Homo sapiens: one gene and its partners. The protein of the gene in region 2 interacts with the protein of the main gene of each other region in a biochemical or structural test. Each region holds a gene or a part of one and is shown on either strand. Other genes may lie near its edges.

The links.
Region 1: the proteins of RACGAP1 (region 2) and SHCBP1 form a complex in vitro, tested with the Homo sapiens proteins (one study listed by BioGRID).
Region 3: the proteins of RACGAP1 (region 2) and PPP2R5E interact in far-western blotting, tested with the Homo sapiens proteins (one study listed by IntAct).

The regions. Positions count from the first base shown.
Region 1 is NC_000016.10:46,578,091-46,584,187, reverse strand, and holds the end of SHCBP1 (SHC SH2 domain-binding protein 1), read left to right. Parts: intron 1-98; coding exon 99-185; exon of another isoform or gene 186-186; intron 187-530; coding exon 531-672; intron 673-2,133; coding exon 2,134-2,459; 3' UTR 2,460-5,597; downstream 5,598-6,097. UniProt on the Homo sapiens protein: May play a role in signaling pathways governing cellular proliferation, cell growth and differentiation. May be a component of a novel signaling pathway downstream of Shc. Acts as a positive regulator of FGF signaling in neural progenitor cells.
Region 2 is NC_000012.12:50,000,885-50,008,692, reverse strand, and holds part of RACGAP1 (rac GTPase-activating protein 1), read left to right. Parts: intron 1-2,056; coding exon 2,057-2,259; intron 2,260-3,300; coding exon 3,301-3,437; intron 3,438-4,388; coding exon 4,389-4,458; intron 4,459-6,392; coding exon 6,393-6,446; intron 6,447-7,440; coding exon 7,441-7,521; intron 7,522-7,808.
Region 3 is NC_000014.9:63,532,957-63,540,764, reverse strand, and holds part of PPP2R5E (serine/threonine-protein phosphatase 2A 56 kDa regulatory subunit epsilon isoform), read left to right. Parts: intron 1-1,071; exon of another isoform or gene 1,072-1,072; 5' UTR 1,073-1,079; coding exon 1,080-1,236; intron 1,237-7,808. UniProt on the Homo sapiens protein: The B regulatory subunit might modulate substrate selectivity and catalytic activity, and might also direct the localization of the catalytic enzyme to a particular subcellular compartment.

The DNA of each region.
Region 1 (6,097 bases), on a different chromosome or scaffold from region 2:
ATTTGTACTGTGTTAAAGGCTAAGAAGTAATTGTAATAAACTCTTATAGTCTTGCCTTTTAAAAACTGATTGTCATTATCTCAAACTGTGACTCACAGGGTGCTGGTATAGAAATCTACCCTGGGAGTCAGTGCACCCTGAGTGACAATGGGATCCATCACTGCAAGGAAGGGATCCTCATTAAGGTGAGCATCAGCCAAAACACCCACTTTTCAATGGATAGAATGGTTTTACCTACAAATTATGCTTTATTAAATTGTTGGGTTCTATTTTCTGGTTTTGAAAAGCATAAACAGTGTACACATTTTGATAATATCAGTGATTGGAATCTCTTGTGAGAATGCTGTTACCTATAGATCTGCAGAAATGACAGAGGAAAGCTGTGTCACTAAGGGTGCAGACTGTGCTACAACATGGGACTAAACATAGCTTTTTCCTTTTATTTTTAGAATAGTGTGAATAAAGAAGATTTTTAAGGCAGGAAATGTTGAATATGACAGTTCCTAAAACATTTGTTTTCAATGTCACAGGACTTCTTAGATGAACATTATGACATTCCCAAGATATCCATGGTGAATAATATAATACATAATAATGAAGGTTATGGTGTTGTCTTGGTGAAACCTACAATCTTCTCTGACCTGCAAGAAAATGCTGAAGATGGAACTGAAGGTATATTTAGTAATTTTTAATATAAAAACCAGACATAATTTATTTCAGCATTAAATGCTGATTAAGGATCTGAGTCTTCCTCTCTTCCTTAAAAAAGGTTGTTGGGATATGCTTGGGCATGGAGAGAGAGAAGCTTGGTAACATTAAGTCATAACATTACAGACTGTGAAAGAAACTTTCAAGGTCAACTAGTTCAACTGTCATTCAAAATCTTGATGTTGTGGTTTCTGTGCAGTTCCCTTCTTATCATGGTTAGCTTTCAATGAGGGTGGATGTGTGATAGCAACGATGGGTGTGTGATAGCAATGGTGGGTGTGTGATGCTATGGTGGGTGTGTGACAGCAACAGTGGGTGTGTGACAGCAATGGTGGCTCCTACTGGCGTTTGTTAAGGCTGGAGACAGTGAAATGAATGTGCCAGGCTGAAGGCTGCATTTCCTGGAGGGGATAGTGGAGTTTACCTCTGTTTTTATTGGTAGAAGTAAATGCCTTCCTGTCACCTGCCTTTCTTGGCAGCGAAGGGGAGCTAACTCAGTGGAAATCTGTGAACTTCAAGCTATGATGTAGACCACTATTAAGTCTCAGTCATAGAGAAGGATTAAGCTTTGATGTAGGTGAGGAAAGTTTAAAGCAGTTTATTTATTTAATCAGCTTTTTCAGGTTGAAAGAGTTTAAAGGGTAGTCCTTGTCATCCTTCAGGATCTGCTCCAGTTACATCTCTGCAAGTTCTTTATTTCTTCACAGGTCTCACAAAAGTAAAATAAAGGTGTCAGCTGGGCAGGACTCATCTGAAAGCTCTGGGGGCAGACTCTGTCTCCAAACGCATTCATATCATTCATGGGCAGAATTCATTCCTTTAGCTCATGGGTCTGAAGTCTCCATTTTCTTGCTGGCTGCTGGCTGTTTGCTGGGGCTGGCACTCAGCTCCTAGAGGCTGCTCTCAGGTTCTTGCCTCATGGCCCCCCCATCTCAGCAACAGAGAACATCCCTCAAGGCAAATCTCTCATGCTCTGAATTTCTCTGACTTCCTCTTTAGCAACCAGCTGGAGAAAACTGATTAGCAATCTTAATTACATTGTAAAATTACAGTGCAAAATTCTTCTGCCATTTAATAGGCATGAAAGTAATACCAGGGGGTGGGGATCATGGGGCCTATCTAGAATTAGCTGCTAGATTGGGACTTCATTTAGAAAAGTGGCACTATCTTATCAATCTGTGCATCCTATCTCCTAACGCAGTGCTTAGCAGATAGTAACTATCCAGGAAATGTCTGTTGAGTAAAAGTGATTCTGGGATGAAAAGGGTAAAGGAAGAGTTCAAAATTGGTGATCCTGTGTGAGGGTCAGGGAACCTTGGTATAGAAAGCAAGGCAGCTGCTTGTTGAGAAGACTGTGTAGAAATATATGTTTTTGTTGGGTTAGCTTGTATATTTAACTTTGTTATTATTTGTTTGTTTCTCCAGAAAATAAAGCGCTTAAAATTCAGACAAGTGGAGAGCCAGATGTGGCTGAAAGAGTGGATCTAGAAGAGCTGATTGAGTGTGCAACTGGTAAAATGGAGCTTTGTGCAAGAACTGACCCTTCTGAGCAAGTCGAGGGAAATTGTGAAATTGTAAATGAACTAATTGCTGCCTCCACACAGAAAGGCCAGATAAAGAAGAAAAGGTTGAGTGAACTGGGGATCACGCAAGCTGATGACAACTTAATGTCACAGGAGATGTTTGTTGGGATTGTGGGGAACCAGTTCAAGTGGAATGGGAAAGGTAGTTTTGGCACATTTCTTTTCTGACTACAGTGATGTAAGTAGATAGCAAAATACTGGATTTTGCACATGCTGCCCTAAGAATCACTGCTGCCATTGTAGTTTGCTGTATTGTCTGTATTTTATATTTGATTATTTGGGCTTGAGTGAAAGGTAGATTTATTTCCATTTGCAGGTGTTGCACATAAAACACTCCCTCTTTATAAGAAAAATCATAAATGCATATAAAATAGAAAATATTTGGAGATTGCTTATCTGAAAGTCTTGCTTTCTTATACACATGGTTCTCTCATATTAAGCCTGGTAGTAACTTTTTAGTGTAATTACCTTTAGCACTTCAAAGACGAGGAAGTAAGGAAGGGAATGCAAGACTAGTGCATAAAAATGCAATAGGTGTCATATGTACAGCATTCTTCTTAGAGTTGCCTTTTCATCCCAATTACAGTGAGTCTGATTTCCATCCTGTATTTGCATAATACTTGTCTTAAAATAAAAGCTTTTATGATTGGGAATTTATCTGCCTAATCAGACTTATTATTGAGACGTCAATGGGACGCATTTTTCTGTTGAGCTATGCAGTCGTCAAAACAGCGATAGACAGCATAGGAGGTTTGAAGCAGAAATGAAATGTGTTATTCAGAGCCAATGTTGTACATAGAGCATTTTCACTATTGCTGAATGGGAATGATTAAAAACAAGGTATTTTTCGGGCCAGGCGGTGGCTCACGCTTGTAATCGCAGCACTTTGGGAGGCTGAGGCAGGAGGATCACTTGAGCCCAGGAGTTCAAGACTAGCCTAGGCAACATAGTGAGACCCTGTCTCTACTAAAAATAAATTTAAAAAAAATTAGCTGAGTGTGGTGGTGCATGCATGTAGTTCCAGCTACTCAGGAGGCTGAGGCTAGAGGATCCTTGAGCCCAGGAGGTTGAGGCTGCAGTGAGGTGTGATTGCGCCACTGCATTCCAGCTTGGGCGACAGAGCGAGACCCAGTCTCAAAAAAAAAAAAAAGTATTTTTCTCTTACCGTTACAGTATTCTGATTATATTACTGACACAGTCAAAATGATTAACTGTACAACCTGTATCTGCTGGGTGTTCTTGTTATCATATTGTAAAACAGCTTTAAAAATATTTATATTTTAAAAACTGTATGTGACATTAATATGCCTAATGATTAAAATTATAGTGATGAAATAACAAAATTGAATCTTGTTATATCTTTTCAAACTCACTGTGGGCCATAGTGTCAGTGTAGCATATGTGGTCATTTAAGAATACATGGTATTTTGGTATCTGTTTTCATGCTTTAGAAAGAGTATTACATTTTTTCCCATTAAGTGTGGTTATGTTTGTTTTTTAAATTTGAGTAAAAAATAATTCTTATTTTTTGGATGCTACTAAATGTAGGATTTATGTTAGATTTATTATTTGATCATTGAAAGGTATTTTTACTTTTAAAAAATCTTGTTGCAAGGAGGTTTAAAAAGTAATGTTCATTTCTGCATCAGTTTCAGCCAAATGTTGATATTAAAACCTTTTATTCTTTTTTTTAATTTTTGCCTCTAGATGTGATGCCTTAAGATAAAAACCATTTATTCAACTTAAAAAAAAATCACTTTTTTTTTTTTTTTGAGATGGAGTCTTGCTCTGTCACCCAGGCTGGAGTGCAGTGGCACTATCTCGGCTTACTGTAACCTCCACCTCCTGAATTCAAGCAATTCTCCTGCCTCAGTCGCCTGAGTAGCTGGGATTATAGGTGCCCGCCACCATGCCCAGCTAATTTTTTTTTTGTATTTATTTTATTTTTATTTTATTTTGTTTTGTTTTTGAGATGGAGCTTCACTTTGTCACCCAGGCTGGAGTGCAGTGGCATGATCTCGGCTCATTGCAACCTCAGTCTCCTGGGTTCAAGTGATTCTCATGCCTCAGCCTCCCAAGTAGCTGGTATGACAGCCACCATGCCTGGCTAATTTTTGTATTTTTAGTAGAGACAGGGTTTAACCATGTTGGCCAGGCTGGTCTCAAACTCCTGACCTCAAGTGATCCACCCACCTTGGCCTCCCAAAGTGCTGGGATTACAGGCATGAGCCACGTGCCTGGCCTTTTTTTTGTATTTTTAGTAGATATGGGGTTTCACCATGTTGCCCAGGCTGTTCTCAAACTCCTGACCTCAAGTGATCCACCCACCTCAGCCTCCCAAATCACATTGATTTTTCAATTGAATTTCTACTTTATCTTGGTTTAGATTTTGTAGATAAGTTAGTAACATTTATACCTTCCTTGTTTCTTTTTATAACATGGAGTTTTTCAGATTTCATGTCTATTTTAGCTTAAATCTAAGCTTATATTAATTTTTATTCACATGATTCATTATAATGAGTAGGCCTACTTTGTTCTTATTTAAGTTATATGCAGTACATTTTGCCTCAATCATGGAGAGTTAAACATCTCAAATGGTATAGCATAGGGAATTTAGGGAGTGCCCTAGAGGGGTATGGGTTTGATATTTGAGATGAAAACACTGATGTGGAGAAAGGATAGCCTTCTGTGTTGACTAATTGTGTGTCCTGTCCTTATGGTCCACTCTTAGTGTGACCTTGAATTTATGGCAGGTAGCAAAATTCTATTTTGCTGATTTGAGTATTTTATTTTAGCTTCTTTAGATGTATTTCCCTTCTTCAGTTTCTTGTTGTATTATTGCACCATAGATATTAACACGAATATATTTTTAAAAACTGCCCAGAGATCATTTGATCTCAAGTGTATATACACTTCACTTTTCTGGAGTTACAGAAGGATGGTGAAATAATCATTTTCTGGATTTTGCTTTTCAGAGGGAGATTGAAGAAAGTTCAATAGAACACTGATGAGCTCATAAGAACCGTGTCGTTCATGTTTCTTTGTAATTCAGTTTGCTGTTTTTATTCTTATTCCTTTCTAGGAAGTACATTCCACAGGCTTCTATGGAAATTAAGTTGAAATAAATTTTGATAATTGGCCTTTGATGCAAAATTTATGCATAGCATTTAATTTTATAACATTTTGTTTTATTCTGTGATTAAATATATATATGTATATGTTTTAAAGTCTTATATGTGGTGAACATTCTCCTCTTTTTTTAGTTCTCACTATTAATAGAAAAAAATATATATTTTAAAAACAAAACAGGTGTAATATATCAATGCTCTGAGAATTGCTATTGCTATTTTCCCTTAATATATTGCAGAAAAATATGTCTGTACATACAAATCCACCTTATTCTTTTGATAGTTGTGTTATAGCCCATTGCTGGAATTCTTTCAGTTGTAAGTGATAGAAACTCAACTGAGAAAGGCTGTATGAGAGTTGGTTCTTGGAACTAAACATCTAAGGATGAGAGCTTGATTACATTTCTTACTTTTATAAGGTTTCTTGACAGTATGAGTTCTGTTTTCTTTCTTTTCCCCTTCCCCTTCCCCTTCCCCTTCCCCTCCATCTCCTTCCCCTTCCCCTCCATCTCCTTCCCCTTCCCCTTCCCCTTCCCCTCCATCTCCTTCCCCTTCCCTTTCCCTTTCCCTTTCCCTCTCCCTTTTCCTTTCCCTTCCCTTCCCTCTCTGTCACCCAGGGTGGAATGCAATGGCGTGATCTTGGCTCACTGCAACTGCCGCCTCCCATGCCTTAATGGA
Region 2 (7,808 bases):
GGTGAAACCCCATCTCTAGTTAAAATACAAAAATTAGCCAGGTGTGATGGCACACGCCTGTAGTCCCAGTTACTCAGGAAGCTGAGGCAGGAGAGTTGCTTGAACCTGGGAGGCGGAGGTTGCGGTGAGCCAAGATTGTGCTACTGCACTCCAGTCTGGGTGACAGAGGAAGACTGTCTCAAAAGTGAAAAGTAGGCTGGGCACAGTGGCTAACACCTGTAATCCTAGCACTTTTGGAGGCCAAGGCAGGTGAATCACCTGAGGTTAGGAGTTTGAGACCAGCCTGGCCAACATGGTGAAACCCCGTCTCTACTACAAATACAAAAATTAACTGGGCATGGTGACACACACCTGTAATCCCAGCTACTCAGGAGGCTGAGGCAGGAGAATTGCTTGAACCTGGGAGGCGGAGATTGCAGTGAGCCAAGATTGCGCCATTGCACTTCTGCCTGGGCAACAAGAGTGAAACTCTGTCTCAAAAAAAAAAAAAGTAATATCTTTTTTTTTTTTTTTTTTTTTTTTTCACATTTCTCACCTGCACACACAAAAAGTAATATATTAATCAGGTATGTAAATGTTCTGCTTTGGGTCTGACTTAAACTAAGCTGAAGCAGTAATTTAATAAAAGGAGTATCCTAAAGAACAAACAAACCAGCAAAATTAGGTCAGATGAAAATCTTTTTATTCTCAAAATTGTTTTTCAGTTCGGTAAATATTTTGAGTGTGTATGCATACGGTATTTAGTTTGCAAACATATATGTTTTTTTCTTTAAGCTAAAAAAAAAAACCCACAAAAAAGTAGTATGTTCCAGACTAACCCAGCATATTATTTCTTAAAACTATTTGAATTGTAATATTTTTTTAATTGTTGATATCCGCATTGTTTAAGATAACTAGGTCATAATAACCTATTTTGCTGAAATTTGTGGTTTGTAAAAACTAAAGTTTCCTTATTACTTGGTTTTTCTGGAACAAATTGGTATCCTGATTTGTAAGTTTGATATTTGGTCAAATGATTAAAATTGTTTAAAAAGGACTATGTATTGTTTCTATGCTTTTAGGTTAAATTCATAGGGGAAAAGTGCCCTTACTACCTAAGAATCTGCTAGCTGTGTGTGAATTTGGCCTAGTTTCAGTTTTAACTGGGTTAGTTTGACCAGCAGCAGATGTACACCTTGAGACCTTCTTCCTTGATGTTGGTGGAGAGTGATCCTTAGAGATAGACGGAGGTTAACTAGAAAATTGTAAGGCACTTTTGCAAATACATTGCAGAACAGCTTTGCCAATAGCAGGAGATAAGAATGAATGCCAACAGGGTTATCTTCTTCCTTTGAGATGCTGCCTTGGAAGTGATGTTCTCTTTGCAGACATTTGAAGAGACTTCACATTCTGCTATCAGGGATGTTCCAAAAGCTAGTTTGATCTTCTCTTCCTGTTTTTTTTTTTTTCAACTGGAATGTTTACATACCCTTCAGGGCAGTGTTAAACAGCAAAAGCAAATTGGCTTTTTACTTTCAAATCAATATTTGTATAATTATATAGCCAAATGGAATTGTAGGTCTAGACATCTGTAATATTAATCTACATCTACTGGAGCATATTACAGCAGTTACATTTGAATTTGCTGTTTAACATCTCTCTGGTGCAGCAATGCGTGACTGTAAAGGAAACTGTTTTTGTTTTATAGCTGTAACTGTCCTGGTGCATGACAGCTGCCCCAAAGGTATCCCCCTTTGATTGCCTTCTGTTCAGGAGCTTTCAGTGTTAGTGTTACATCTGGAGCCAGGTGACTAATGAGTTACATATTCCATAGCAGATGCCACTGGCTAAGCCAAAAGTAAGTGGCCTATTGAATAGGAATTGCTACCCACAAAGTTCTCATCAGAGTGACAAACATATCCAGGATCTGCTCCTAGTTATTTTCAGCTGGATTTGCCCATAGTTCAGCTGGTTCCTTAATTATGAATTTCAAATAAAGCTAACCGTAGGACTCATTTATTAGAGCAGTTATACTCTGTTTGGTGCTTGAATTATTAAAGATTCCCCCTTTCCTCAGAATTTATCCAGTTGGCGAAGGACTTTGAGGATTTCCGTAAAAAGTGGCAGAGGACTGACCATGAGCTGGGGAAATACAAGGATCTTTTGATGAAAGCAGAGACTGAGCGAAGTGCTCTGGATGTTAAGCTGAAGCATGCACGTAATCAGGTGGATGTAGAGATCAAACGGAGACAGAGAGCTGAGGCTGACTGCGAAAAGCTGGTGTGTATTGTTTTCCGTGCTAGAACAGTGATGATGCAGGAGGGGGAAGGCATTGTCTGACAGTTTCCACTTGCCAAATATACCTAGTTTCTTCTTCCACATTAAAGAACTGAAAGTGACCTGTTCTTTAACAGCTTGCCCATGATTAGAGCTGAAATTGCAGACTAGGAATCTTGTTCTTCATAATTTGAAATTTAAATGTTTTTGTCACTTAGACTTGAAACTTACTTAACAGACAGATTTCAAATGAGAACTTAAAGAATTAGAGGAAAAGGGAGGGAGGGAGATCCTAACGTACTTGATCTGTCACAAGTTATTGGCCATCCTTCATTGTTTATTTTAAGTGCTACCCGGAATATCCATCCTTACATGAGTAGCTGGTACTTTGTCATACATACAGGCAAGACAACTGTGACTCTTCTTTTCATCACCCCTCTCTAATTCAGGGTAAAAGGCTAGATGTATTCAACCAGTTGAGCAATGTGACTGACACAGAACACTATCATTTTGATGTGCCAGGATGGGTCATAATGCAAAGGAAAGCCTTTACTGGGAGGGACTAATCCATCTTGGTATACAGTGTTAGATGCCTCAGTAAACTCAAATTGTCTGGTTCCAGTGCATTATAGCTTTGTATCCATTTTAATGCATTTTGCTCCACTACTTTGAGAGGTGGGTGGCTGCTTTGATCCGTAGAAGCCAATATTTGTCCTGATAAAATGACACTAAAGTGTTTTTGCTATGTGAAATCTATTTTGGGACTCTCATTTTGCATTATTCTCCTCTTGGATTAGCAGGTTAATCCAAAAGTCTTGTAGCAGAAACTTCGCTGTTCTAGATGTAGTTCATTTTACCAGTCAGAAATCAGAGACACAATCTGGGTTTGATGTGAATTAATATGCTATTGGTGTAGCAGCCTTCCTGAAGGTCCATTTGCATAATGCTGCATTTTAATGTCTTCTGGTCTGCCTGTCCCATAAACTTGAGGTGAAGCTTTCTCCCCTGGCTAGTTATGATGTTTTACTTTGCTTTGGTCTGTAGGAACGACAGATTCAGCTGATTCGAGAGATGCTCATGTGTGACACATCTGGCAGCATTCAACTAAGCGAGGAGCAAAAATCAGCTCTGGCTTTTCTCAACAGAGGCCAACCATCCAGCAGCAATGCTGGGAACAAAAGGTGGAGGAACTGCATCTGTTGTTATCCTATCACAAGCAACACAGGCTGTCAGATATTCTTGTTATCTGAATTCTTAAATATACTTCTTCTAGAATGTGTGCTGAAAAAAGCAGAAAAAGATTTTGTGGGGAGAGTAGGTGGGGAATAAAGGCACAGGGATGTCCCTGTATATTTTATTTTATTTTATTTTTAAATCTTTCCTAAGGATGTTGTTTCACCATGGATACAATTTTGATGTTGGTGCTAAATTGCACATCAATAACTAATCCTGTGCATTGCTAAGAAACCCAAAGGTGAAAGTGGCAGTTCAGCAATACTTTCAGTGTTTACTCTCCAGAGAGCTCTTACAGCTCTTCTGGTTTAGAAAGGCCTCTGTGAGCCAAGACCAGACAATAATTTTGGTTCCACTGCACCACTGTTTAAAATAGTCTCAACCAGGCTTTGAATTTAACATCCCCAGTACAATATGTAGGGAAAGGTCAGCTATTTATTTTGTTGCCTGGTTGTTTTATGGGGAATCTTTATAACTAAGAAGATGTACAGGCTTAATTTCTTAAAAAGTCAGTGTTGGGTAATACTCTTGTTTGTAGAAACCAGCACAGTTGGGATCAAATTAAACTTCATTCCCTTGATTTTGTGAATTTGGAGTAGCCTGTAATACAAACTCGGTAGAGAATAGCACCCATAACCCTGACTAACTTTCAACTGCCCTTATAAGGTCTTTGCTGAAAAAGCAACTGTGTTGCACCTGTACTCATGCACACACACTCCTCCGTGGAAACCATACAAAGTAGCCTACCACAGGGTTTGAGATTGTAATTGTCTCTATAGTGAAGATTTTGCTATGAAATTAACTGATGTTACCTGACCAGTAGGACTTGTTCTGAATGTTGGTGAATTTTACATTCCACAGTCTACCATGTCTAACGTTGTATTGTTTCACTGATCTAGACTATCAACCATTGATGAATCTGGTTCCATTTTATCAGATATCAGCTTTGACAAGACTGATGAATCACTGGTAATAAACATTTGATCTCTGAGAATTACCTACTTTTCTTACCTCTGCTTCCCCAGGAATATCTCTCCTGTCTTCTCTTCTGAACATCCTATATTACTATTTTATTAGTTGATGTGTTATAGATTCTGAGCTAGCAATTTAAAATATAAATCCACATGAGCTATAAGAGGCTGGCTTATATATTAGTTTCTGAAGTGAGAATATATAATTCAGAATTTGGCATAAGTTGAGTTCATTTAATAGATCTCTGTGTGCCACATGTACTAACTGATTATATTTTGACTTATTAAAGCCCCAGCTAATAATAAAAATATTAGCAAGACTGTATGTCGTCAGGGTTTATTTGCTGCTCTTAAATAGACTTGTGCCTTATTTCTGAATTAGTTTGGTTCTTGGGGAAAGCATAGTCATACTTCACAATTAGAAGGAAACCAAGGTCCTGGGATTTCAGCCAGAAAAGTGTGATTAGAGTTTCTAGGCACTATATAATGCTTTCATCAACAATGGTTAACATGTTAAACTATTTGTTGCCCTGCTTTTATGGGGCGGCACACTTCTTTTAACTTACAGTGATGCTTCTGCATAAAAGGTCATCTCCTGATACAGTCTTTGATATAGTTCATTGATTTGTGCATCTTTTCTGTTACTAGCTGAAAACTAGCAAACAAAACAAATCAGGAAGTTTTTGGTGACTGGTTTTCTGGTATAGCAAAACAGGTGACAACTATTTGTTACATGGCTAGGAGTTTTCTGTTCAGATTCAGTGTTTGACCAGGGAAAATACGGCCATTTTATAGATAAAAATATTAGGCATCACCTTTCTCAAATAGGGAATGATATAGTGGAGGTCTGGAATATATAATAAAACTAGATCATATTATCAGTTGATTTTTGAGCTAGACCTATGATACGATATTTCTTGTAACTGAAGCTGAATCAAACAACCAGTAACTAAATTACTGGACCATGACTTGGGGAAGTTAAATTTATTTAGCTAAGCTATTATTTGCTGTATACCACTGTTTCTAGATACTGTTTTCAGGGATGATCAGGAGTAAGGAAATCACAGGTAACTACTAAAATGAATGCAAATAGTTAAAATAGGTGAATTGAAATGAGACCACAATAAAAGACAAATAGTTCTTCAGTGGTGGACACGTTTTAGGGCCTAAGTTCCTAAACTGTAGAACTTTTTTTTTTTTTTTTTTTTTGAGACAGAGTCTCACTCTGTCACCCAGGCTAGAATGCAGTGGCGCAATCTCAGCTCACTGCAAGCTCCGCCTCCCGGGTTTATGCCATTCTCCTGCCTCAGCCTCCAGAGTAGCTGGGACTGCAGGCGCCCGCCACCACGCCTGGCTAATTTTTTTGTATTTTTTTAGTAGAGACGGGGTTTCACCGTGTTAGCCAGGATGGTCTCGATATCCTGACCTCATGATCCGCCCACCTTGGCCTCTCAAAGTGCTGGGATTACAGGCATGAGCCATCGCCTGGCAACTGTGGAACTTGTGAAGTGGCAATATTATGCAGAGCATTTGATTAGACAGTGGCAATCCCTTGGGGGCAAGAATCACATCTAATACAATCAGTATAGTGCCTAACATTCTGTAAGTTCTAAAACTAATTACAAAAATAATCAGAAATAAAGGATCAGCCACTGGAAATATGGCAGAATTTGATTCTTTAACCTCTTCTTGCCTCTGTGGTATTGATTCCTGATTTTATTATAATAGCTTCAATTTTTCAAAGAAAGCACATTAACTTACTATAGCTCTATAGCTACAACACTTGAGACCTTCCCTTCTCTAACCCTCCCCGAATTGTACGTTAGGTAGCCTGACTGAAGAAGCCTTTAAAGTTCTCTGTAAATTTATTTGCACAGGGTTTAGGGATGGCCTAACCAAAAAAAGAAATTAATACAGTGTAATTGTCAACAGGATTGGGACTCTTCTTTGGTGAAGACTTTCAAACTGAAGAAGAGAGAAAAGAGGGTATGTATGATTTGTTTAGTCTTTTTTTAAAACAAAGTAATAATGGAGTTATTTTTGGAAATTTTGCCATGATACTGCATTCCTGTCATGTTGCTCTAGCCATTGTTAAGCACATACTACAGATGAATTCATGCTGTGGGGACAGTATTGATATTCTTTTTTTTTTTTTTTTTTCTTTTTTTTGAGACGGAGTTTTGCTCATTTCCCAGGCTGGAGTGCAATGGCGCGATCTCGGCTGAACGCAACGTCCGCCTCCCGGGTTCAAGCAATTCTCCTGCGTCGGCCTCCCAAGCAGCTGGGATACAGGTGCCTGCCACCATGCCTGGCTAATTTTTGTATTTTTAGTAGAAACGGGGTTTCACCATGTTGGCCAGGCTGGTCTTGAACTCCTGACCTCAGGTGATCCACCTGCCTCGGCCTCCCAAAGTGCTGGGATTACAGGCGTGAGCCACTGCTCCCAACCAGTACTGGTACTCTTTGAAGTAGTAACTTAGGACAGAATCCTGTCCATTTCACTGTTTAGGCTGCATTTCAATTCATTCATACAGTGGAAAAGGATAAACTTAAGTTTGTTTTGAATTGTCATATGAATTTTTACACAGAACTTTTGTGCTCTAATATAAGCTTCATATAATGGGATATATAGAGATCTATCTGTGTATGCTTGTTTAGGGTACTTAATGTGTTTCCAAGACTTCATGTCCTTAGTTAGGATTACAGCTGTACTTTTTCTGGTGGTGTCATCTAAATTTCTCCATAGCTTGCTCATTTTTTCTAGGGCACTGAGAGCATTTTTGTACAACATATTCTTTTGAAACAGCTTATTCTTCATGTGGAAATAGGCAAAGAGAGAGAGAGAGAGAACACATTGTTTGTTATTTACTGTAGCCCTAATCCCCAGGACCTGTATCCAAGTTGTTTGATGGAATAATTTTATCTTCTGTGCTTCAGATCTGCTTGGCATTAAAGTTACGGGTCTTTGTCTCCTTTCTAGCGCTCTACTAGCCGACAGTTTGTTGATGGTCCCCCTGGACCTGTAAAGAAAACTCGTTCCATTGGCTCTGCAGTAGACCAGGTAAGAATAGTCAGGCCAAGGTAACAGAGATTACTGGCCCCAAGCATTAAAACTTCTCTGAGTCAGCATTGCAGCATTGTTTTGAGAGACATGATGTTTAGTTAAAGTTTTTGTTTGTTTTTTGAGACAGAGTTTTGTTCTTGTAGCCCAGGCTGGAGTGCAATGGCACCATCTTGGCTCACTGTAACCTCCACCTTCCAGGTTCAAGTGATTCTCTTGTCTCAGCCTCCCACGTAGCTGGGATTACAGGCGCATGCCACCACGTCTGGCTAATTTTTGTATTTTTA
Region 3 (7,808 bases), on a different chromosome or scaffold from region 2:
TATGACTTTTCTTTTCTTTGTTTGTTTCTTTTTTTTTTTTTTGAGAAGGAGTTTTCCTCTTGCTGCCCAGGCTGGAGTGCAATGGCATGATCTTGGCTCACCACAACTCCGCCTCCCGGGTTCAAGTGATTCTCCTGCCTCAGCCTCCCGAGTAGCTGGGATTACAGGCATGCGCCACCATGCCTGGCTAATTTTTGTATTTTTTTTTTTTTATTAGAGATGGGGTTTCTCCATGTTGGTCAGGCTGGTCTCGAACTCCCAACCTGAAGTTATCTGCCCGCCTTGGGATTACGGGTGTGTGCCACTGTGCCTGGCTTTTTTTTTTTTTTTTTTTGAGATGGACTCTTGCTCTGTTGCCCAGGCTGGAGTGCAGTGGTGCCATCTTGGCTCACCGCAACCTCCGCCTCCCAGGTTCAAGCGGTTCTCCCTTCTCAGCCTCTTGAGTAGCTGAGATTACAGGTGCATGCCACTGCGCCTGGCTAATTTTTGTATTTTTAGTAGACACAGGGTTTCACCATGTTGGCCAGGCTAGTCTCGAACTCCTGACCTCAAGTGATCCACCCACCTCGGCCTCCCAAAGTGCTGGGATTACAGGTGTGAGCCACCGGGCCCAGCCCTTTTTTTTTTTTTTTTTAAAGGACGGAATCTCACTCTGTCACTCAGGCTGGATGGAGTGCAATGGCGGGATCCTGGCCCACTGCAACCTCCACCTCCCAGGTTCAAGCGATTCTTTCACCTCAGCCTCCCGGGTAGCTGAGATTACAAGCACCTGCCATCATGCCCGGCTAATTTTTGTAATTTTGTAGAGACTGAATTTCACCATGTTGTCCAGGTTGGTCTTGAACTCCTGACCTCAAGTGATCCACCCATCTCAGCCTCCCAAAGTGCTGGGATTACAGGCGTGAGCCATTGCACCTGGCCAAGATAAGACTTTTCTTAACTGATTTTATTTTCTTTAGCACATATTCCCATTTTCATGAATATTGTATATGGGAATTTTAGAATTTGTATAACTCACATGTATGCTTCCACCTTGGGAATGTATGGGTTTATGATACTTCTTTCTCTTCAGTAGGGATATGTCCTCAGCACCAACTACTCCTCCATCAGTGGATAAAGTAGACGGATTTTCTCGGAAGTCCGTCAGAAAAGCCAGACAGAAGAGGTCGCAAAGTTCCTCACAGTTTAGGTCTCAAGGCAAGCCTATTGAGTTAACACCTCTGCCGCTGCTAAAAGGTAAGGCTCATGACCAGGTGATGCATTCTTTTTCAATTGATCTTTCTACATCTATATATAATTTCCTTTTTGTAGAGTTTTATATGTGTTGCAAATTGAAGGGATGGGATACTTCACATACATTGAAGTTACTAATGTGTGACCAAATATACCCACTCTCCTTTTTAAAGGCTCAATTTAGTCTGTCTTTGGGCAAGTTAAAAGAAACATTATCAGGAGAATATCTCACATTGATGAGTAGGTAAACTAAGTACTAGAGAAACTTTAAGATGTCTGGGTTTGTGTTTTTCATTTTTTCTTCTGTTGACGTTTAGGGATACATTATATACAATGACAACTACAGATTATGGTCTTAGGAAGTAGACCCTAGTAGAGGAGATGGTACCATTCATTAATTTACATATAGAAAATGGTATTTGGAAGAATTCGTTTTTAAAAATCAAGAAAAAAATGGTCCATTTATAGTTGTTTACATGCACTCTTGTTTTCACATAGTACAAGTAGAAAAGATATACCTTTCTATGTACAAGTATGATGATCATACTTGTTTAGTATGATCTTTTCTTTGAAATTTGTTAATTTTTTAATTTTAATTTTTATCTTTTGAGATAGAGTCTCCCTCTGTTGCTCAGGCTGGTTCACAGCAACCTCCACCTCCTGGGTTCAAGTGATTTTCCTGCCTCAGCTTCCCGAGTAGCTGGGAGCACAGGTGCCCGCCACCATGCCCAGCTAATTTTTGTATTTTTAATAGAGACAGGGTTTCACCATGTTGGTCAGGCTGGTCTTGAACTCCTGACCCCAAGTGATCTGCCCACCTTGACCTCCCAAAGTGCTGGGATTACAGGTGTGAGCCACCGTGCCTGGCCTGAAATTTGTTAAAAACAAGTTTTTTGGTTTTTTAAATTTTCTTTTGAGACAATCTCATGCTGTCACTCTGGCTAGAGTTCAGTGGGGACAGAGTGAAAGTGCAGGTTGAGGCCGGGCGTGGTGGCTCACGCCTGTAATCCCAGCACTTTGGGAGCCCGAGGCAGGCAGATCACGAGGTCAGGAGTTTGAGACCAGCCTGGCCAACATGGTGAAACCCTGTCTCTTCTAAAAATACAAAAATTAGGCGCGGTGGTGGCACCTGTAATCCCAGCTACTCGGGAAGCCGAGGCAGGAGAATTGCTTGAACCGGGAGGCAGAGGTTGAAGTGAGCCCAGATCGTGCCATTGCATTCTAGCCTGGGTGACAGAGCAAGACTCTGTCTCGGGGGAAAAAAAAAAAAGAAAGTGCAGGTTGGGGCTCACTGTGGCCTCTATTTCCTAGGCTCAAGTGATCCTCCCTTTCCCGAGTAGCCGGGATCAACTTCCCGAGTAGCTGGGACTACAGAAGCATGCCATCACGCCCAGCTAATTTTTCCATTTTTTTGTAGAGATGGAGTTTTGCCATGTTGCACAGGCTGGTCTCGAATTGCCATGGTGTTCCCATGCCAGGATTTAGGCGTGAGCCACCATGCCCGGCCCAACACGTTTTTAATATGAAGAATTTTTTCTAAATTAGGCATTTCAACTTTTGTTTGGGTATGTGGTTACTTTTTGTCCCTTTTAATTTTCATCATGTTTGCTTCATGTTTATGAACAGGTGTTGTTTGAAAAATATCAGAACATAGCTTTTATAGTGTGGAAACTATCAGAATTTACCTTTGAGGTGGATGTTTATGTGCTGAATACTGAAGAATGGGAGAAAGGGGATATGAACAACACAATGAGCTTTAGTGTGGCTTGGAGGAAACCAGGCAACCTGGTTTGCTAGTTCATTATTGCAGACTTATTTCTGTAACAGTTTGTGAAATCAGAAGGTATTATAAGAAAAACTGGAATGTAACCGGAAAAGATCCTCAAAATTTAGCTTAGGATATTTCAAGCTTCTATTTTTTCCATATGAATACTTTTTTTAAAAAAGAGAGAGAGATTCATAAATAAGATTCCAATGTTTATACAAAATTTTTGGAAACTGAATACTGATTACTGTAAAGATGATATATCTACCAGTCAGTAAAGATGAGCTCCTGTGAGCTTTGGGGGAGAAAATTTTGACTAGAGATTTTGCTGGTAAAAATGAAAATAGTCATTATGAGGCTTTGGAAAGAAAATGTAGGAAACACTGTAGATTGAACTATGCTTGAAATACAAAGTTGGGAGACACTGGTTTTTAGTAATCTATTTAATCTGAAGTAGATATGTAATGGGTGTTAACTTCTGTATCTGTAAAGGACTTCATTCTGAGGAAGCCAGTTAAATTTTTTTTTTTAGAATTAGAAGGAATTTAAAAACTTACACTAATTTCTTGGATCTTATGGTAAACAATTAAATTAGGACTTCACTGACCACTCATAGTCAGGGTATTGGTTTTGTGGGTAGTGAAAGAAGCATGCATGAGAAGAATTTGGACACATGCTTTAATGTATTTTTTCTTTAATGCTTTCATGTCTTTTTTCTCATTTTAAAAAATTATGGTAAAATATACATAACATGAAATTTACCATCTTAACCATGTTTAAATGTGCATTAAGTGCCTTGACATTGTCATGCAACTGTCCCTACCATCCATCTCCAGAACCTTTTCATCTTCCCCAACTGAAGCTCTGTACCTGTTAAACACTGACTCCCTGTTTCCCCCACCAGCCCTTGGCAACCGCCATTCTGTTTTTTGTTTCTATGAATTTGACTACTCTAGGTACCTCCTATAAGTGATGCCATGCAATATTTGTCTTTTTGTGACTGGCTTATTTCACTTAGTCAAGTGTCTTCAGTGTTCATCTCTGTTGTAGCAGGTGTCAGAATTTCATTCTTTTTTAAGGCTGAATAATTTCAGTGTATATACATACCATATACTTTTTAATCCATTAATTCATTGGTGGACACTTGGGTTGCTTCCACCTTCAGGCTATTGTGAATAATGCTGCTGTGACCATGATGTACAGATACCTGTTTAAGTTCTGGCTTTCATTTCTTTTGGGTATGTACCCAGACGTGTAATTGCTGGATCATATGTTGAATTTTTCAGGAATTGCCATACATATTGCCACAGCAACTGGACCATTTTTCATTCCCATTAGCAATGCATGAGGGTTCCAGTTTTCTATATCCTCACCATCACTCATTTTCTGCTTTTTAATTTTTTGATAGTAGTCATTATAATAGGTATGAAGTGGTATTTCAGTGTGATTTTTATTTGCATTGCCCTAATGATTAGTGATGTTGAGCATCTTTTCCTGTGCTTTTTGGCCATTTCTGTATCCTTTTTCTCACTTTTAAAAGTGAAGTCTGCTAGTGTTGCCAGTTTTCCAAGAACTCTGCTTTCCAAGAATGTGATTTTTTGAACTTGTATATTTTGCCAGTATGAGAGAATTGGAGAGTAACAGGACTATATACTCACAAACCTAATTCCAGAGTGACTAACAGTGATTGTTATGTAGTAAGCACATTCTGGGTAAATACTCTGGAAAGTATTCTATAAATTAGAAATCCATCTCTGTCTGTAGAATAACATAAGGAAGTATAATCAGAAATAGACTTCAGTAATGTGTATTTGCTCTTGATTTTCTAGGAAGTAATTTATGGAATATAAAGAAAATGTAGGAGGAATTTCTTTTCTAGGATTTTATTTTTTTTGGCCATTGCCTTAAGAGAAACCAGGATAAACACTATATGCATGCTAAGGGTAGTTATTGATTTAATTTTCTATAGTATTGCTTTGACTAAATTGGGTTAATTTTATTTGGAGTACAATATAAAATATGGTTGAATTTTGTGAGTTGTTTTAAATAATGAAGTCAAAGAGGTGTCCTTAAGGTCTTTAATTTCAGGGGAGTTTGAATACGATAATTATACAAACAGTGATTATGTAACTCATCTTTTAATATGTCATTTTTGAATGCTCAGATATGCATTAATAACCACTCGTTTTGTGCATGCATTATCAGAATGTTTATTATATGCATCATAATCTTTGATTTATAAATAATACTGCATTAATTCTTAGCGTTTTAAAGTCTGTTCACTTGCAAAACTGCAACATAATGTGAAGGGAAAGTTTTTGTTTTGCCCTATTTCTTTTTTTTTTGAGATGGAGTTTTGCTCTTGTTGCCCAGGCTGGAGTACAGTGGTGCGATCTCAGCTCACTGCAACCTCTGCCTCTTGGTTCAAGTGATTCTCTTGCCTCAGGCTCCTGAGTAGCTGGGATTGCAGGTGCCCACCACCACACCAAGCTAATTTTTTTGTATTTTTAGTAGAGACGTGTTGAGACCAGCCAGGCTGGTCTCAAACTCCTGACCTCAGGTGATCCACCTGCCTTGGCCTCCCAAAGTGCTGGGATTACAGGCGTCAGTCACTGCGCCCAGCCTATTTTGCCCTATGTCTAATAGGTGGGGTTTTGAAATCTGTATCACTGATGTTATTTCCTGTAGAAAGCAACACCACCTGTAATTCTGTATAAATCTACCTGGTTTTTCCGTATCTGTGTGTTAGGAAATTATAGGATGAACTTTGCAAAGATAGACATTTACATTTTCTCCATCTTTATATGCTTTTGTGAAAGTGTTCTTGGAGAGCCTTAACATTTTTGAGGCTGGGTATGGTGGCTCACACCTATAATCCCAGCACATAGGGAGACAGAGTTGGGAGGCTCGCTTAAGCCCAAGAGTTTGAGACCAGCCTACGCAACATAGTGAGACCTCATCTGTACAAATAATTTAAAAAATTAGCCAGGGTGGTGGTGTACACCTGTGGTCCCAGCTACTTGGGAGGCTGAGGCAGAAGGATTGCCCGAGCCCAGGAGGCTGAGGCTGCAGTGAGCTGTGATTGTTCCACTGTGTCCAGTGTGGCTGACAGAGTGAGACCTTTGTCTCAAAATAAAAACATTTTTTTCTTTGAGTCTAAAAGATTCTTACTCATTCACTGATAGGGAAAACCTAGTAGAGGTTTAGTGCCTTACTTACTTGATAAGAAAGTAAAATCTTGGGGGAGGCCGACAGGGGGCGGGTCATTTGAGGTCAAGAGTTTGAGACCAGCCTGGCCAACAGGGTAAAACCCCATCTCTGCTAAAAATCCAAAAATTCGTGGATGTAGTGGTGTGCATCTATAATCCCAGCTACTCAGGAGGCTGAGGCAGGAGAATCACTTGACCCCGGGAGGTGGAGGTTGCAGTGAGCTCATATTGTGCCACTATAAACTCTGTCTTAAAAAAAAAAAGAAAGTCAAGACTTGGATACTTTCCTTACACTTACACAGCAGGACATGAAGCAAGCCTTGACTGTTATCTAGGTAAGTTGTTGAGTAAGACAGTCAAACTAAACAGTTAGGCAAACACACAAACACACACACAAATTTATGTTAATAATAATCAGTGGTAGTAGCACCTGGCTGGGTGATTTATGTTCTCTCCTCACCCCAGCCTCCTGTGCCTCATTTCCTTGCGTTGACTTTAAGCAATTCTGTAAGTTTAGATTTGGGTGAACGTTTTCTGAAGAATACTGCCTCTTTGAAGATGGAATTATAGTGAAAGTAGCATTGTTATTTCTTTTGTTTGTTTGTTTTTCTGAGACAGAGTCTCGCTCTGTCACCCAGGCTGGAGTGCAGTGGCGCAATCTCGGCTCACTGCAACCTCTGCCTCCCAGGTTCAAGTGATTCTCCTGCCTCAGCCTGCGGAGAGTAGCTGGGATTACAGGTGTCTGCCACCACATCCGGCTGATTTTTATATTTTTAGTAGAGACGGGGTTTCTCCATGTTGGCCAGGCTGGTCTCGAACTCCTGACCACAGGTGCGTCCGCCTGCCTAGGCCTCCCAAAGTGCTGGGATTCTTGGCATGAGCCACCGCGCCCGGCCGCCATTGTTATTTCTTGTCTCACAATTCATTATACATTTCCGAGGCATTTTGCAGATAGTTTGTACATTCACTTTTAGATATTCTTACAACTATGATGACTAGACGGAGTTTAGCTCTTGTTGCCCAGGCTGGAGTGTAATGGTGCGATCTCGGCTCACCACAGCCTCTGCCTTCCGGGTTCAAGCCATTTTCCTGCCTCAGCCTCCCAAGTAGCTGGGATTACAGGCATGCGCCTCCATGCCCGGCTAATTTTGTATTTTTAGTAGAGATGGGGTTTCTCCATGTTGGTCAGGCTGGTCATGAACTCCTGACCTCAGGTGATCTGCCTGCCTCGGCTTCCCAAAGTGCTGGGATTACAGGCGTGAGCCACCGTGCCCGGCCGTTTTCGTGCCTTTTTAATGATTGCCTTTTTCGTCTATATCTGCTTTGTGTATAGTAAAGTAGGCACATGCAATATAATACCAGATTTTTATAACGAGTGAATGTGCTAAAACCTATTAGAATAAGAATAGTCTCTTAAGAGGCCAGGTACAGTAAATAACTCACACCTTTAATCCCAGCACTTTGGCAGGTCGAGGTGGGAGGATTACTTGAGCCCAGGAGTTCAAGGCCAGCCTGTGCAACATAGCAGGCCTGTCTCTAAAAAAAAATACAATAAAAAATTAGCTGGGTGTGGTGGTACACACCTGTAGTCCTAGGTACTT